Linked DNA regions of Homo sapiens. The protein of the gene in region 1 interacts with the protein of each later gene in a pairwise test. Each region holds a gene or a part of one and is shown on either strand. Other genes may lie near its edges. The genes, in order: ADGRG3 and VSTM1.

Evidence for each region.
Region 2: the proteins of ADGRG3 (region 1) and VSTM1 interact in binary tests that used the Homo sapiens proteins (3 or more experiments, as listed by UniProt).

The regions. Positions count from the first base shown.
Region 1 is NC_000016.10:57,662,445-57,671,305, reverse strand, and holds the start of ADGRG3 (adhesion G protein-coupled receptor G3 isoform 1 precursor), read right to left. Parts: upstream 3,001-8,861; 5' UTR 2,959-3,000; coding exon 2,901-2,958; intron 1-2,900. Other genes in the region: ADGRG1 (adhesion G-protein coupled receptor G1), read right to left, coding at 7,724-7,854. UniProt on the Homo sapiens protein: Adhesion G-protein coupled receptor (aGPCR) for glucocorticoid hormones such as cortisol, cortisone and 11-deoxycortisol.
Region 2 is NC_000019.10:54,039,683-54,047,946, reverse strand, and holds the end of VSTM1 (V-set and transmembrane domain-containing protein 1 isoform 1 precursor), read left to right. Parts: intron 1-5,389; coding exon of another isoform or gene 5,390-5,457; intron 5,458-5,577; coding exon 5,578-5,670; coding exon of another isoform or gene 5,671-5,720; intron 5,721-5,750; coding exon 5,751-5,778; intron 5,779-5,993; coding exon 5,994-6,031; intron 6,032-6,130; coding exon 6,131-6,168; intron 6,169-6,866; coding exon 6,867-6,986; 3' UTR 6,987-7,122; downstream 7,123-8,264.

The DNA.
Region 1 (8,861 bases):
CTTTAAAAAACTGCCGGGTATTATTGAATTTCCCTCCAGAAAATGGTGTACCTATTTATACTCTCACTCAAAGTGGATAAGAGTGACTATCCACATGCCTATTATTCTATAGCTTACTGAACTTTTGGATTTTTGCTAGTCTGAGGGATGACATTGAATCTTATTTCCATTTAAGGAGTTTGAGCATCTACCTGTATATCTGCGGCCACTTTTATGTCTTTTACTCTGAAGTGCTTTGTTGTATCCTTCTCCCTTTGAGGGTGGGAAGTGGGTCTTGGCTCTGCATTGTCACTTTTCGGATTGCCACCCCCAGGAAGTGTTAGGAGAGCTCCCTCTGCGATGGGTGGTGCTGGGGGCTGAGGCGGGCAGGGGCTCATCTGCTTTCCATTTTTTATTTCCCTCCCTGGTATTTGATTTTTTAAAAATCATGTCCAGTATTACTGTCACATTTTTTAAAAAACTGTTCATTTTTAATCATTAAGACAAAAAAGACATGATAAAAATAATGGCTGAATAAAGAGTAACAGCAGGGTAAAAAAATAACATTTTAGAGGGGATTTTGTAATAATGGACTCTATATGTGATAATTCGTTTTAGATAGTTTATAAAGGAACTGTAAATTTCTGTTAGTTTATAAAGATATTTATGATGCATTGTTTAATGGGAAATGAAAATGATAGATGAGCATGAATATAGTATGATCTATGTTGGCTTTTTAAAAAAGGGGAGAAGAGGGAGAGGAGGAAGAAGACAGAAACAGGGAGAGGGAAGAGAGGAGAGGGGAGGAGGGGTTGAGAGGGGAAGGAAGAGGACAGGAGAGGAGGGGAGATAACATTGTCAGCTTGAGGACGGGTGCCATTCTCTGCCATCCCGGCCCTGCTGTCATGAATGGGTCCAGGTGCAGGCCTCCCTCCCGGATTGCCATGAATTTCAGCGCAGGCATGTAAGTGAAGCTCTTGGCAAGCACCCTACACAGACAGGATCATTAAATATCTTTTCTGTGTTTATTCTTTGAAGACACTGCAAGCATTTCATGTAGACAAGGAGACCCTGTGCTAGGCCTGTGGGTGGGATAGCACTCCCCTCCTCTCCAGACCCTCTATGCTCCAGAGCCTGGCCTCCATGGACTGCCTCATTTGGGGGTCAGCAAGTGGAAAGTGGACTGGAGGTCAGAGGGCAGGAGGAGGGCAGAGTGGGCATTTGCCCCCACCCCGCATGGCTCCTTCAGCCCCTGCTGGCTCACCGTGAGCAAACCACCGCCATTTCCCTCCTGTAGCCACAGTCTGGCTGTAGAAGCCCAGGGGGCCACTCCCTCCTGGCCCCTTTAGACCTCACGGTGCTGAAGGCTGCCCCAGGTGCCAGCCTGCCCAGTGACCACCCTCCTTGCTCCCCGTGCCCTGCCCGCACCTTTGTCACGTGTCCCTTCATGCCAGGCCCTCCATTGCATCCACCCCTTGCTCAGCCCTAACAGCTGGGTCTCACATGCGAGCCCCCACCACACTGTGTCACTCCTGCAGACTGTGAGCCTTTTGAGGGCAGGGGCCAAGTGGTACCAGCAGGAGCAGAGGGCACCATCGATGCTTCCTGAATGAATGAATGAATGAATGAATGCGCAAATGGAGAATGGAGACTAACACATCACTGTCCACACAGGAAGTGTGCAGACCTTCCTGTGTGTAGACCTCTCAGAGCTCCTTGCTCAATCAAATGGCTGCTGCTCTGCCCCAACCAGAGCACCCACATCACCATGGGGGAAACAGCATCACCTGGAGGAGGCTTGAAGGCCCAACCAGCGATGACAGCTGGGACCTGAGGACGCCCATGAGCCCTGGTCACAGCTGCCATCGGTGGCTCCGTTCATTCATCTATCAAGGGCTGCCTGGTGGCCTGCTCTGTACCAGGGCCTCCCGGGGCCACTAGGAGGACAGTGCTGTCATCTCCCACCCTTTTTTGAGCCAGGGACTGATTCACTCCACTGAATCTTCCAATGTTTGAAAAGAAGAGGGTTATTTGAAGACCAAATAAGTTGATCTATGTGGCCAAAGTCACGCGACCACACGCTGGACACACAGGGAGATGGACATGCAGGCCCCTCACCGAGTCAGGAGCAAAAAGAGAGTGGCCTGCAAGGCCCTGAGACAGGAGCACTGAGGAGGGAGCACTAACGGGGGAGCACCTCCCTCTGTCCGAGAGGGTTGCTAAGACGCCACAGAGGCCAAGAAGGGTAAATGGAGCTGGCTAAGTGGGCAAGGGGTAGGGGGACAGCTTTCCTGGGAGAGAGGCCAGCAAAGGCAAGGCCCGGGCACTTCCATGGCCTCTGGAGACGCACCATGTGTTTGTGTGTGAGACGGGAGAGTGACGGGGAGGAGTGTGGATCCTGGCTCAGGCCACTGAGGACCAAGAGGTTGTGGCTGAGACTGGGAGAGGGAGCCGGTGTGGGGTGACATGTGCGGGAGGAGAGGTCCAGAAGAACGAGGTGACAGACCTTCCTGGCCTCAGCTTCCAGAGTGTCTGAATCCCGTCCCCAGGATCTCACAAGCCAGCTGGAGAATTGCCTGCCCGGGGCCAACCCCTGTCTCAGAGCCAGGCCTGTCAGGGAGACACAGCCCAGGTTGGGGAGTCAGGGAGCACCCTCCGACCTCCCCTATCTCCAGGGCACTGTGGAGCAACAAAGGGAACCTGAGACCAGTCCTGAGCAAGGTTTAGTGGAAGGACAGGACTGACCCAAAGGGACAGGGCTAGAGAAGGTGCTGAGGCGGCCACGGGGGGTATCGGAGGACACATCCCAGACACCCCAACTCCTCACCTTCTCCAGTCCCTGCGTCTGTCCCTGGATCCCTCCCTCGGCAGGGCAGGGTCGGCCCAGCGTGGCAGGAGGGGATGAGGTGCCAGCCACTCACCTGAGGTCGGGAGCAGGAGGAGCAGGAGCAGGGCCCCCAGGCCCCTGGGCGTCGCCATCCTTGGCCAGCCTTGCCCACGCCAGGAGCTCTGTGGCTGTCTGGCCCTCTGGCCCCAGGCTCTGCTGAGCTGGCCTGCCCCCACCCTGCAGCCCCACCACTCTGGCTTCCTGTGTCCTCTTTCTCACCCTTCCTGCTCGATGGCGCCATTGGTTGGGTTGTGAAAGGTGAGTGTGGGGAACTGGGCAGTGCTCCCAGTCTCACCGCACCCTGGGTCCACCTGCAGAGGGAGCTGCTGAGCCCACCCAGGTATGTGCCCCCGGGGCCCCACTGGGGTGGGATCTACGGGGCTAGGGGCTGGGTGGCCACAGGGGCCTGGCTCAGAGCGGATCCCTGGGAACTGTGGTGAGCACAGGCTTTGGAGTCAGGCGCACCTACTCAGACCCCTCCTCTCACAAGCTGGGAGCCTCTCTGAGCCTCAGTTTCCTCCTCTGTAAAGTGAAGATGGCAATGGGGCTGCCTCCTAAGGCTGTGTCAGGGTTTGATGAGACCTGCAACAAGCTGGGCACAGAGCCTGGCTCTGGGCATGAGGACGAAGACCCAGATGGTGCCTATGGCTTGAACCAGGCTGGAGGGTGTGGGAGGAGAGCAGGAGCTGGCCCTGCAGCCTGAGCTTCCCCCACCAGCCTGGATAACAGGACGGACCCAGAGGCAGGGTAGCGGGAAGACAGCAGTGCGGCCCCGGGGGCTGGTCAGGCCTGAGCTAACATCCATCCTGGCCACTTCCTGGCCGGGTGACCTTGCATGCACTGTCTGTCACCCTGAGCCTCCCGAGGTGTGTGATGAAATCATGGATGACGCAGGCGGAGCCGCCTGTGGCCATTACATCATTTCTGATCATCAGAGCTGTGAAATTGTTGTCTTTACACCCCAAATGGTCACTGATCAGGTGGGAGGTGGGGGTGGCAAACACTCCTGGGCTTCAGCCTAAAGGAATTAGGGCGCCAGCCACTCGGGCCAACTCTGGAGGCCCCACGGATGCACTGTGCATGAGGCCATGGCCACTTGGCAATTGGAAGGTGAAGGGCATCCCACCAAGGTGTGTGGTTGCTGGCATCCCCCTCTGGCCCACGGGGCTGGCACTAGCCCTACTCAGCCTTGGGATTGAACTGGGGAGCCGCTCAGCCCCTGCTGGCCTCCATTTCCTCCTCCTCCCACTCAGTGTCTCCTGCTGAGCCCTCTGGGTCTGGGAAGGGGTAGGGAGGGGATGTCAGGGTCACTCATGGTGTGGGAGCAGGTGGGAATTCAGCATGGAGCAGCAGGTCAGAGCCCAGGGCTTCCTGAGCCCCAGAAACTTCCTCTGCAGGGAGGGCTGCGAAGGCAGATGAATGGCTGGGCCTGCCACTGCTCCACACCTGGCCAGCCTTCTCCTGGAAGATCTGCAGACCTCCCTCCCAGCTGCAGGTGAGGGTGAGGTGGGGCAGTGGACTTGGATGTGCTGGGCCCATCGCTGAAGCCCCATCCTGGCACCTGGGCCCTCAGAGAGGCTCGCAGGTACCAGTGTGTGAAGAAGCGCCTGGGGGTGAGCAGACTGAGATTCCGAGCAGCCAGCCCACCTGGGAAGTGGGCAGAGGGCAGGTGCAGGGGAAGGTCAGGCAGGGCTGGAAGGAGGGCCACCTTTTCCTAAGGCCCCTTCCCTGAAACGCCCCCTGGGGACCAGGGACTAGCCTGGAGCCACTCACAGAACCCTGAGACCCCCCCCAACCCCAGGGCCAACAAAACAGTAGTGTCCCTTCCTGCCGCCTCCTGCCCCAGCTTCTCCCAATGGCTCCAGTGGGCAGGGCCTCAAGTCCTCCAGCGAGACCCAGCCAGCATTCAGCCCTCAGCTGCTCCAATCCATTTCCCAAGCTAAAGGGATGTTTCCAGATGCACGCCTGGCCACATGCTGGCAGAAAGGGCGATCCCACTGTCCAAAGCCCCACAGCCTGGGAAAGTGCATGATAATAACCATCGGGGTAAAAGGATCAGCATGGAACTGTTGGTGCCCTGTGCAGGGCCTACCTGAGAAGGTGAGACCCAACCCAAGACCCCTCCCCACTACCTGAGCCAGCCTCAGATGCAGAAACAAAATGTTTGAGAAGCAGGAGAATTGCGGAGGAACGGGGCTGGGTCATTTCCCCCCCATTCTGGAAGATGGGGGGAGTTGCCTCAACCCCCATCCCAGGACCTAGCCCAGCCATGGGGCTCTGAGAGACCCCCCTCACGGAGACCTAGAAGCCTGTAAGGAGGGAAGCTGGCTTTGATCCCCCGGGGCTGCCCAATCCGGACACTGGGGTAGGGGAGGCTTGGGAAGGTTTGGCCTCTGTCCTTTGGAGCTGGGGGCATAAGAGGAGCCCCCCACCTGCAGAAAGGTGGGGACAGAGGTCAGTGGAGGGAGTGGAGGGGGTGGAGGGAGGGCTGGGAGAGCAGCAGGGCACAGGGGTTCTTGGTCCCTGCAGGTCCCAAGATCCCACATTCACGCCCCTCAGAGGGCACTGCCAGTCTAGACCCAGCTGCCTCACACCCACCTTGTCCAATCCAAGACTCTGAGCCTCTTCCCCTGCTGGGCATCCCCCTAGAGTGGCCAGGGGAGGAGGGAGGAGCCTGCAGAAGGGAGAGAGTGGACTGTGGGCCTTGGGGAGGACTTTGGCTGCACTGGGACCTCTTACCTGAACACAGTAGCAATGATCCGTTGTGACTGCCCTCATCACAGGGAAGATGGGAACCTGCGTGATCTGCCTCACCTGGGCCTTAGGAGCGGGAGGAGAGATTGATTTGGTGGAACAAGGTTAAAGGCAGGGATGGGAGAGAAGTCCAGTGATTTAATTCTTGCAGCCCACCTGCTGCAGAGTGATCAGTAAACTGGTTGCATAAATCCCAGGACCAGGCAGCTTTTGACTGTAATCTCTTTGGCCAGAAAATGTTTTGGATTCGCCAAAATTTTAAAATCAGGGGATGTCAAACCACAGTCTGGATTTCCCATTTCTCATAAAAGGCAGGTGGTCTGGCTACATGGGCCCTCATCCCTGCAAGGTAGTGACCAGCTGGAGCTGATGAGCAGCCACGCTCTCAGCATGGGGTTGGGAGTCTCCAGTTCGCCACAGGCCCCACCACTCCCCATTGCCTCCCCAGCACAGACACCAAGTTGCCATTTATCTTCCCCTGTGCCCTGGTTGATGAGGTTTCCAGCAGTCGATTTTTTTTTTTTCTTCACACACAGCCCTCTTCTCTCTTTCATGTTTCCTGATTGGCCCCAAGGTATTTGTATTAGTATCAGTGACTCTTTCAATAGAAGCACAGGAAAAAGCTCAGAAGGAAATGACCCAAAATGCTTACGCCAGTTTGCTAGGTGATTACAACAGCTGATTTTTATTTTTCTTCTTGATTCTCTTCTACAGTTTCCAAATTCTCTACAATGAACATGTACTTCTTTTTAATATCAAAAGACAAAAGAATTGGTACGTAAAAAGAACATCCTTCCCATCTTCAAGGTCAAGATTGAACGCTGACTCCTGCAGGAAGTCTTCCAGGATTCCCAGGCAGGAATGATGGCTCCCTGTCCCTGTAGCTCCAGGAGTTCTTGCTTCACGCACGCCTCACATACCAGACTGAATGTTGGCAGGAGGAGTGACCAGGTCGGTCATCTGTGTCCCTACCACCTACAACAGGCCAGCAATCTACCCGTGTGTGTTTGTTGGACAGAATTAACCATGATGGGCGGCCGAGGGCGCCTGGAGCTATTTGGGGGCTTGGAGAGAACCTCTTAGGAGAGTGTCAGGCCCTAGGCCAGTGTCACCAGAGGAGGTCAGTCTCAGTCCTTGGAGTGGTGGGATGGAAACCAGACGGGACTGGCATGGTCCACAGTTCTTGCCACAAGAGGGCTTCAGGAGAGGCTGAGGGCCCCTCTGAGGCGTGTGCTTGGTCAGGGTGAGCAAGGGCAATGCAGCTCATACAAAGGCCCAGATGGACAGAGGGACCTAGCCCAGCCCACGCATCGGTACCGAGCCTGGCTCAGGGGCAGGCCGAGGCTTGTGCAGTAGACAAACATTTACAGCAGACACCAGGCAGCTCCTGGAAACCACTCCCCAAAAAACAGCATTGGAATCGGGGACCCCCAGCTGTGAACGAAGGAGCAAGGAGGCCCTGGGAGAGGAGGAGAACCCCAGGGAAGATGGAGGGAGGACTGGGGGGCTGAGGGAGGGAGGGGGCCTGGGCTCAGAGGTAGGCGAGCTGCTGCTGTGCTCCTGGCAAAGGGCCTCTCCTCCGCCAGGGCTCTGGCCCTGAAGGTCTGCCCTGGGCCCCATTCGCCCTGGGTGCCACCTGAGGTTAAAATGACAGAGGATGCAGAGTGCCCTCAGGGTGACCACGAGAGACAGAGCAACTGGAGCCACATTTCTGTCCCAGGCAGGGGCACAGGATTAAGGATGTGCCAGACCCTCAAGATCCAAGGCCTGGCCCCCAGCAATGAGGGCTGGGCCCAGGGGTTGTAAGGAGAGACCAGGCCTCCAGCTGGGTTGGGACAGATGTGGGGACAGTACCCTAGGCAGCATGGCGGCGCACTTCTGAGTCCCGTGGGAGCTGAGTGAGAGCCGAGTAGTCCCCAAGGCCAATTCAAAAGCCCAGCCCGGGAGTCCGTCCACCATGGCAACGGCCCATCTCTCCATGGTCGTTGGGCTTTCCAAAGTCTGCGGCTGACTGGCCTGGGGCTGGGCCGGGCTCGGGGGCCACAGGCAGTGTGCGACGAGGCCGAATCTCTGCTTCATCACATGGGCAGGTGGGCTGGAGGCCTAGATGCGGCTGGACGAGGTGCTGCCCGAGCTGATGGGGAGCCTGGCGCTGTCTGAGTTGCTCTTCAGAGGGGAGGGGCCACCCCGGGCCTGCAGCCGCATGGACCAGTACCAGATGAAGATGAGGAAGCCTGCGGGCAGTGAGGGCACGGGGTCAGCAGGTGGGGGAGCCCCACCCCATCCCTCCTCCTCCCTCCCCAGCCATTGTGACTCGGGTCTGCCCCACCTCTCCATAGTGTTTGCCAAGCACGTGCTGTCGGGCACCCATGAGACCCAGCGAGCACCTCCTATGAGCCGGGCACTGTGCTGCGTCCCCGTGTGGCCTCTCACTGTCACAAACTTCCTAGGCCCATCCTATTCATTACTATTCTCTTTTGTAAACAAGGAAACTGAGGCCCAGGAGGCTCAGGTAAAGGGACGTGGCTGAGCCAGGGCTCAAACTGTGGTGAACAGGCTCTGAAGTCCACCCACTTAAGCACTGTGAGATTTTGCACCCCTCAAATTAATAGCACTATGATGTATCCACAGCTTAGTAAATGTCTGTGTGAATGTATGGGCCTCACTTACAATCCTGAGTCCCCTCATCTCACAGGCAGGAATGAAGGCTTGAATGTTAAATAACCGAAATGTGGTAACATCTCCCCACCACCAACTCCCAGCTCCCATTCTAGGGTGACCCTGTATGGGAGGCTGGCCTTGAACCCCATGAGAGCCCCTGGGCCTGGCCATACAACCCCCTTCCATTCTGCACGGCCAGGAACAGAGGGGTGTGCATGCCTGTGTGTGCACCTCAATGTACACACACAGGTACATGCACAGAAAGGGACCCTGTTGGCATCAAGCCAGAGCCATCATGACCCTGCCCTGGGATCCCACCTCTCCGCCCCGACCCGCCGCCATCTGGCCACGCTCTCCCTCACTGTCCTTCCTACACACAACCGGTTCCAACCTCAGGATCTTTGTTCTTGCCTCTCCCTCTGCCTGGAGCTTCCTTCCCCTAGACCAGGGCTCCTGATCCTATCATGTGCACGTGACCCCTTGGGCATTTGTGAAAATGCAGATTCTGATGTGGCAGGGCCCGGGTGGCCCAGAGGCTGCGTTTCCAAAAAGCTCCTAACAACGCTGCTGCTGCTGGTCT
Region 2 (8,264 bases), on another chromosome or scaffold:
GTCAGGCTGTATCTTGTTGCTCACGCTGACTTTAGTAGCGTAGCAAGTTATGATTTATTCTGGCAATTTGCAAATACTGATGCAACATTTGGCCAGGATCTGTGGACATCTCAGGGTGAACCCAGTTCAGCTGATTATGGGGTCATATGAAGATGAGAATTTTGCAATAATGTACTTCTCATTTCTAGTGAATTGCTGTGTGAAAGATACCGTAGGCTGGAAAAGGGGAGAACAGAAAGGACAAGGCAAGGCTGCTGTTTCTCTGCTTCCATCTGGGGAAACTGAGAGTCCAGGAGCAGCTGTTCCTGCCCTGTTTTCATAAGTCCTTGGAGATGCACTGATAGAATTGTTGCTTATGGCCAGGCATGGTGGCTTATGTAATCCCAGCACTTTGGGAGGCCAAAGTGGGCAGAACACTTGAGCTCTGGAGTTTGAGACCAGCCTAACCAACATGGTGAAACCTCATCTCTACTAGAAATATAAAAAATTAGCGGGGTGAGGTGGCGGGTGCTTGTAATCCCAGCTCCTTGGGAGGCTGAGGCAGGAGAATTGCTTGAACCCCAGAGGGGGAGGTTCCAAAGCCGAGATTGTACCACTGCACTCCAGCCTGGGAGACAGAGTGAGACTGTCTCAAAAAAAAAAAAATTGTTGCTTTTGAGGGGTTCTCTGATTCAGCTCCACCAGAAGCAGGCTCTTAGACAGCATTAGTGTGAAAGTGACGTTTTATTTTATTTATTATTTATTTAGTTTTGAGACAGAGTTTCGCTCTTGTTGCCCAGGCTGGAGTGCAATGGCGTGATCTTGGCTCACTGCAACCTCCGCCTACCAGGTTCAAGAGATTCTCCTGCCTCAGCCTCCCAAATAGCTGGGATTACAGGCATGCACCACCACACCCAGCTAATATTCTATTTTTAGTAGAGACGGGGTTTCTCCATGTTGGTCAGGCTGGTCTCGAACTCCTGACCTCAGGTGCTCTGCCTGCCTCGACCTCCCAAAGTGCTGGGATTACAGGTGTGAGCCACCACGCCTGGCTTGAAAATTACATTTTAGGGAGTGGGGAAGAAGGGCTGGGAGGAAAATAGATTAAACAAGTGTGGGATATCTGTGTCCCTCAGATGGTATCTTTGGCTCCATCCTGCAGAAAGCAGTGGAGACAGAGAAGGTCGAAGACCAGAGGCTAGGGAGCTGGGGTCCCCACAGCCGTCAGTGGCAGTTTGTCCCGGGCATGTAAATTCCAAGGCATTTGGAGTTCTCCCAGGCAGTCCCCCAAAGAAGAGATACAAATGTTCACTTTGGAAAGGGAAAGAAGCCACGATCTAGAATGCATAAAAATGGGAAAGGGATCTGGGGAACATGGGTTGAGGAACATTGACAGAATCTATTACAGAGAGAGATGGGTGTAGGTGGAATATTGGGTGAAAAAAAATCATCATTATACCTACAATCCCATTATCCGACACAATGAGTCAGTTTCTAGACTGAGCGCTTTAAAGCCAGGATTTTTCATCATTACCTAACTCTTCAAGTTAGATATTATTAGCTCTCTGCCCCCTCCTTATATTTAACCAAAAAATAACGTATTCCAGAAAGGGAAGGGAACATTTACAAAGTCAGGAGGTAGGAGACCCAGTACTAGAACTCAAATATGTCTTGTTTCAAACTCCCCACTCCTTTTGCTGCTCCCTGATGATCAGCTCAGAAAGAACCTTATTTCAGGGAGGGGGATAGATAGATAATTAGATGTGATAGATAATAGGCAAGTAGGCAGATAAATAGATAACTAGATATGATAGATTAGATAGATACATAGATGATAGGTAGATAAGTAGCTAGATACGATGGACAGATTAGATAGATAGACAGATGATAGGTAAGTAGGTAGATAGATAACTAGATACAACAGGTTAGATAAGTAAGTAGATAGATAACTAGATATGATAGATTAGATAGATAAATAGACGATAGGTAAGTAGGTAGATAGATACAGATAGATTAGCTAGCTAGCTAGATGATAGATAACTAGATATAATAGATAAGATAGATGATTAGATAGACAGATAATTAGATATGATTGATAGATACATTAGATAGATGATAGATTAGATAGATAGATGATAGGTAACTAGGTAGCTAGATAAAGCTAGCTAGATAGATAGATAGATATACAGATACACAGATAGATACATAGATACCTAGATAGGTGATAGAGTTGCAAGATAGAAAAATTAGATAAGTAGGTGGATAGATAGATAGATAACTAGATAGAATAGATTAAATAGATAATAGTAGGTGAATAGACAGATACATACAGATGATAGATGATAGATGATAGATAACTGGTTATGATTGATAGATACATTAGATAGATGATAGATTTGGTAACTAGATGATAGGTAAGTCGGTAGATAGATAAGTGATAATTAGATATGATAGGATGGATAGATTAGACAGACAGCAGGTAAGCAGGTGGATAGACAGATAAAGATAGATACATAGATGCCTAGATAAGTGATAGATTAACAAGATAGAAAAATTAGACAGACAGATAGTTAATTACATATGATAGGATAGATAGATTGGATAGGTGATAGGCAAGTAGGTAGATAGATAAATCATAATTAGATAGGACGGATAGATTGGATAGATGATAGGTAAGTAGGTACAGAGACAGATAAAGATAGATAGGTAGATAGATAATAGATACCTAGACAGATGGTAGATAGATTAGCGAGATAGATAAATTAGATAGGTAATTCTCTATATATAGATATGTAGAAATGCCAATGCAAACATAGCGAACCAAGTAGGGGAAGCGTCTGGATGGGAGACCCTCTGTTGGTGCAGAGGACCAGGCGTGTGAAGCATCTCAGACTTGGCTCTGTAATGTGACCACAGATCATTGCACACCTAGGAAAAATTCTCAGACTCAAAGCACACTAACAAAGATAGCGGGGGTCTTGGTGAAGCCCCTTTCTGGGGCCTCACTTCTATAGTTGCTCAACTTTTTTCCTTAATCACGTTTCTGCTACTTACTCCTTAAAGTCTCACGACTTGTGTTTCTTGAATCTAAAGTGCCAAGAAAAACAAAAAACGGGGGGGAACTGCATGGACTCTGTCGCCTAGCTTTAGTAACAGGTTGCTCTCTCTTCCTCAACGCTGTGAGCTTTGGACACAACCCTTGCTGTAATCCCAGGAGTCACACGGGAATGCATGCCCTTCACCAGTGGGAGGGAAATAATTGTACTACCTTGCAGGGTTGTTGTTAAGACTTTAAAACGCTATGATGTAGACTTGCATGGCAATATTGCTCAAGAACTAGTTTTTTTTGTTTTGTTTTGTTTTTGTTTTTTAATTGGTAGAAATTTTATCTCCTGAGAGGGATGCTTTTTTGAGTTGGAGTCTTGGTCAGTTGAGTGTATGATGCAGTGATGCGATCTCGGCTCACTGCAACCTCCGCCTCCCAGGTTCAAGCAATTCTCTTCTCTCAGCCTCCTGAGTAGCTGGGACTACAGGCGTGCGCCACCATGCCCAGCTTATTTTTTATATTTTCAGTAGAGACAGGGTTTCACCATGTTGGCCAGGCTGGTCTCGAACTCCAGACCTCAAGTGATCCACCTACTTCACTCTCCCAAAGTGCCAGGATTACAGGCGTGAGCCACCGTGCCCGGCCACTGGTCATTCTTTTCTACCCTGCTCTAACCCTGTTCTTATTAGGAATCCTCCCTGAATTCTCCCAGCTGATCCCTTGTTCTGTGTCTTGGGGAATCATGTCTCCTTCAGAGAGCCCCACCCCTCCCCACTCTAAACGCCTTCCATGCCCGTGTCACTGCTGTTCATTACCTGGCATCAACGAGCTCATTGAAGTGTGTTTGAAGTTGGCTGGGCGTGGTGGTCTGTACTCCCAGCTACCCTGGAGGCCGAGTGAGGAGGACCACTTGAGCCCAGGAATTCGAGTATGATCACACCACTGCACTCTAGCCTGGGCAACAATGGGAACCCATTGGCACATCTGGGATTGGCATCCTGAGCTCCCATCTGTGACCTCCCTCCTCTCCCCTCCTCTCCCCTCCATTGCCCTCACCCTCTCCCCATAATCTTCACATCCCGTCCTTTCACATCTCTCTCTCTCCTTTAAAAAAAGAAAAAGGAAATATGTTTGAAGTTAAGAGCTGAGATCATGTCTGTGTTAGCCAGGGTTTTCCAGAAAAACAGAACCAATAGAACATATAGATATAAGCTGGGTGTGGTGGCTCACGCCTGTAATCCCAGCACTTTGGGAGGCCGAGGCAGGCAGATTGCCTGAGGTCAGTAGTTCAAGACCAGCGTGGCCAACATGGCGAAACCCCGTCTCTACTAAAAATACAAAAATTAGCCGGGCGTGATGGTGGGCACCTGTAATCCCAGCTACTCAGGAGGCTAAGGCAGGAGAATTGCTTGAACCCGGGAGGCGGAGCTTGCAGTGAGCCAAGATTGCACTATTGCACTCCAGCCTGGACGATAAGAGTGAGACTTTGTCTCAAAAAAAAAAAAGAGAACATATACATGTATATACATATATGGAGAGAGAGATTGATTTTAATGGATTGGTTCACGTGATTGTGGGGAGCTGGCAAGTCTGAAATCTGCAGGGCAGGCAGGCAGGGGATCCAGGGGAGACTTGATATTGCAGCTTGAGTCTGGAGGCAGAATTCCTTCCACCTTGGGGGACCTCAGTCTTTTCTCTTAAAGTCTTAAAGTCTTCAACTGATTGGATGAGGCCCACCCCTATGACAGTGGGTCATCTGCTTTACTCAAAGTCTATTGGTCGAAATGTCCAGCTCCAAGGAAGTTCCAGCTCCAAGGTGGGAGATCCAGGCTTGGAAGCCAGGCCATCTGTCTGGCTTCTCTTAGCTTTTCTACTCACCCCATCAGTGGATTTCAGACAGTGATTACACAGACAGATGTGGTGGCTCACGCCTGTAATCCCAACTACTCAGGAGGCTGAGTCAGGAGAATTGTTTGAACCAGGGAGGTGGAGGTTGCAGTGAGCCAGGATCACACTCCAGCCTGGGTGACAGAACACGACTCCATCTCAAAAAAAAAAAAGTGTGTATATATATATATATATGTATATATATATATATATATATATATATATATACACATTTATATATACACACACATATATATACATTTATATATATATATACACACACACACACGTATATATATATATGGAGCACCTGGAACAGAGCTGGCTCACAATAAATGATCAATATCATTGCTATGCACCAAACATTCCCTGGGAATTTTTGGAATTTCCTATGCGCCAAGCACTGTTCCAGCCCTTTCTATAGGTACTGACCCACCATCCAATAAAGTAGCTACTGCTGCTATCCTCACTTTACAGATGGGGAAACAGAAGCTTGGAGAAGATTAAGGAAATTCCCCAAAGCAATAGGAAGTTCCAGCTCCGAGGTGGGAGATCCAGGCTTGGAAGCCAGGCCATCTGTCTGGCTTCTCTTAGCTTTTCGGCTCGCCCCTATCAGTGGATTTCAGGAGCCAGGCTGATTCCCTGACCTGCTCTTCCCCCTCCAGACACCAGAACCATCTTTGTCGCCATCTTCAGCTGCATCTCCATCCTTCTCCTCTTCCTCTCAGTCTTCATCATCTACAGATGCAGCCAGCACAGTGAGCTCAGAGAACGCAAAGGGAGAGAGGGGGAGTGAAGGATTTTCTCGGTAGGTAAATTCCTCCTGCATTTTTTGTAGGTTCATCATCTGAGGAATCCACCAAGAGGTAGATGCTTGGCATAGCTCATGCTCCACTTATTCCCATGTCATTCTCAAGGGAACCCATTGGCACATCCGGGATTGGCACCCTGAGCCCCCACCCCAGCCCATTCTGTGACCTTCCTCCTCTCCCTTCTTCTCCCTTCCTCTCCCCTCCATTGCCCTCACCCTCTCCCCGAAATCTTCACATCCCATCCTTTCACGTGTGTCTCTCTCTTTCAGAACCAGCCATTCCAAACTTCCGGAGCAGGAGGCTGCCGGTAAGGGACAGGGGAAGTTTAAGGGAATCACCGGATAGAAAGACTAAGTTCTGACTTCTGCAGCTGAGAACTGATTTTTTTTTTTCCTTTCTCACTCAGAGGCAGATTTATCCAATATGGAAAGGGTATCTCTCTCGGTGAGTCCTCCCGCTTAGGAGTCCCACAAGAGCTCCCTCACCACAATGGGCTGGTCGTGTGTGCCTCCTGGTTAAGCCCATACAGAAATGTATACTGTTTATCACGCATGTGGTCTTAGACAAGTCACGAAACTCCCCTAATGGGAACCAAAATCTCCATTTAAAAGGCTTATGCATGGGCCGGGCGCGGTGGCTCACGCCTGTAATCCCAGCACTTTGGGAGGCCGAGGCGGGCGGATCATGAGGTCAGGAGATCGAGACCATCCTGGTTAACATGGTGAAACCCCATCTCTACTAAAGATACAAAAAATTAGCTGGGCGTGGTAGTGGGCGCCTGTAATCCCAGCTACTCAGGAGGCTGAGCCAGGAGAATGGCTTGAACCCGGGAGGCGGAGGTTGCAGTGAGCCGAGATCACGCCACCGCACTCCAGCCTGGGCGACAGAGCCAGACTCTGTCCCAAAATAAATAAATAAATAAAAATTTAAAAAAAATGAAAAAAGGCTTACGCAGATCCATTGATGTCACAGGCATAAAGGGTTATAAAAACAGAAAAGAAAAAGAAATGCATCTGGTGTGACCGAGGACCTGGGTTTTAAATTAAATTTAATTGTAATTAACTTAAATGTCAATAGCCATGTGTGGCTAGTGGCTGCCATATTGAACACTCAGTTCTAATATTCATCTATTTTCTCCAAAGACGGCAGACCCCCAAGGAGTGACCTATGCTGAGCTAAGCACCAGCGCCCTGTCTGAGGCAGCTTCAGACACCACCCAGGAGCCCCCAGGATCTCATGAATATGCGGCACTGAAAGTGTAGCAAGAAGACAGCCCTGGCCACTAAAGGAGGGGGGATCGTGCTGGCCAAGGTTATCGGAAATCTGGAGATGCAGATACTGTGTTTCCTTGCTCTTCGTCCATATCAATAAAATTAAGTTTCTCGTCTTAAAAAGAAATCTGACTTATTTATGGATTATTCATGCCCAAGAACCCCACCATACTCTTTCTACCCCACATTTCCTCCTAGAACAATTCAAGGAAATAATAAATAATGATTGACCAGCTATCCAGGAAAGAATGTAAGAATTACTGAGCATCTCCAGGAAGCACAACAAGCAAAAAAGAAAACGGCCGGGCTCACGCCTGTCATCCCAGCACTTTGGGAGGCCGAGGTGGGTGGATCATCTGAGGTCAGAGTTCAAGACCAGCCTGACCAACATGGTGAAATCCCATCTCTACTAAAAATAAAAAATTAGTTGGACGTGGTGGCAGGCGCCTGTAATCCCCGCTACTTGGGAGACTGAGGCAGAAGAATCGCTTGAACCCAGGAGGCAGAGATTGCAGTGAGCTGAGATGGCGCCATTGAATTCCAGCCTGGGCAATGGAGTGAGACTCCATCTCAAAAAAAAAAAAAAAAAAAAACAAAAAACGCCCAGAGCTGCAAACTCCTAGACCAGAGGGCAGAAAACAAAAGGACCAGAGAGTAACACGTCCAGCTTTGTGGGCTGTAGGATCTCTGCTGAGACTACCCCACTCTGCTGTTGTACCATGAAAGCAGCCATCGCTGATATGTAAACAAGTAGGTGTGGCGGTGTTAGAATAAAACTTTATTTACAACTTCATGTTCTCACTCATGTAGGAGCTAAAAAAGTAGATCTCATGAAGGTAAAGAGAGAGTCAGTTATCAAAGGCTAGAAGGGGTGGGATAGTTAATGGGCACAAACACAGTTGGATAGAAGGAATAAGTTCAAGTGTTCAATAGCACAGAAGGGTGACTATAGTTAACAGCAATATATTGTATATTTCAAAATAGCTAGAAGAGAAGATTTGAAACATTCCCAACACAAACGATAAATGAGCCAGGTGCAGTGGCTCACTCCTGTAATCCCAACACTTTGAGAGGCCAAGATGGGTGGATCACCTGAGGTCAGGAGTTCAAGACCAGCCTGGCCAACAAGGTGAAACCCCATCTCCACTAAAAATACAAAAATTAGCTGGGTGTGGTGGCGCACACCTGTAATCCCAGCCACTTGGGAGGCTGAGGCAGAAGAATTGCTTGAACTCGGGAGGCAGAGGTTGCAGTGAGCCAAGATCACAC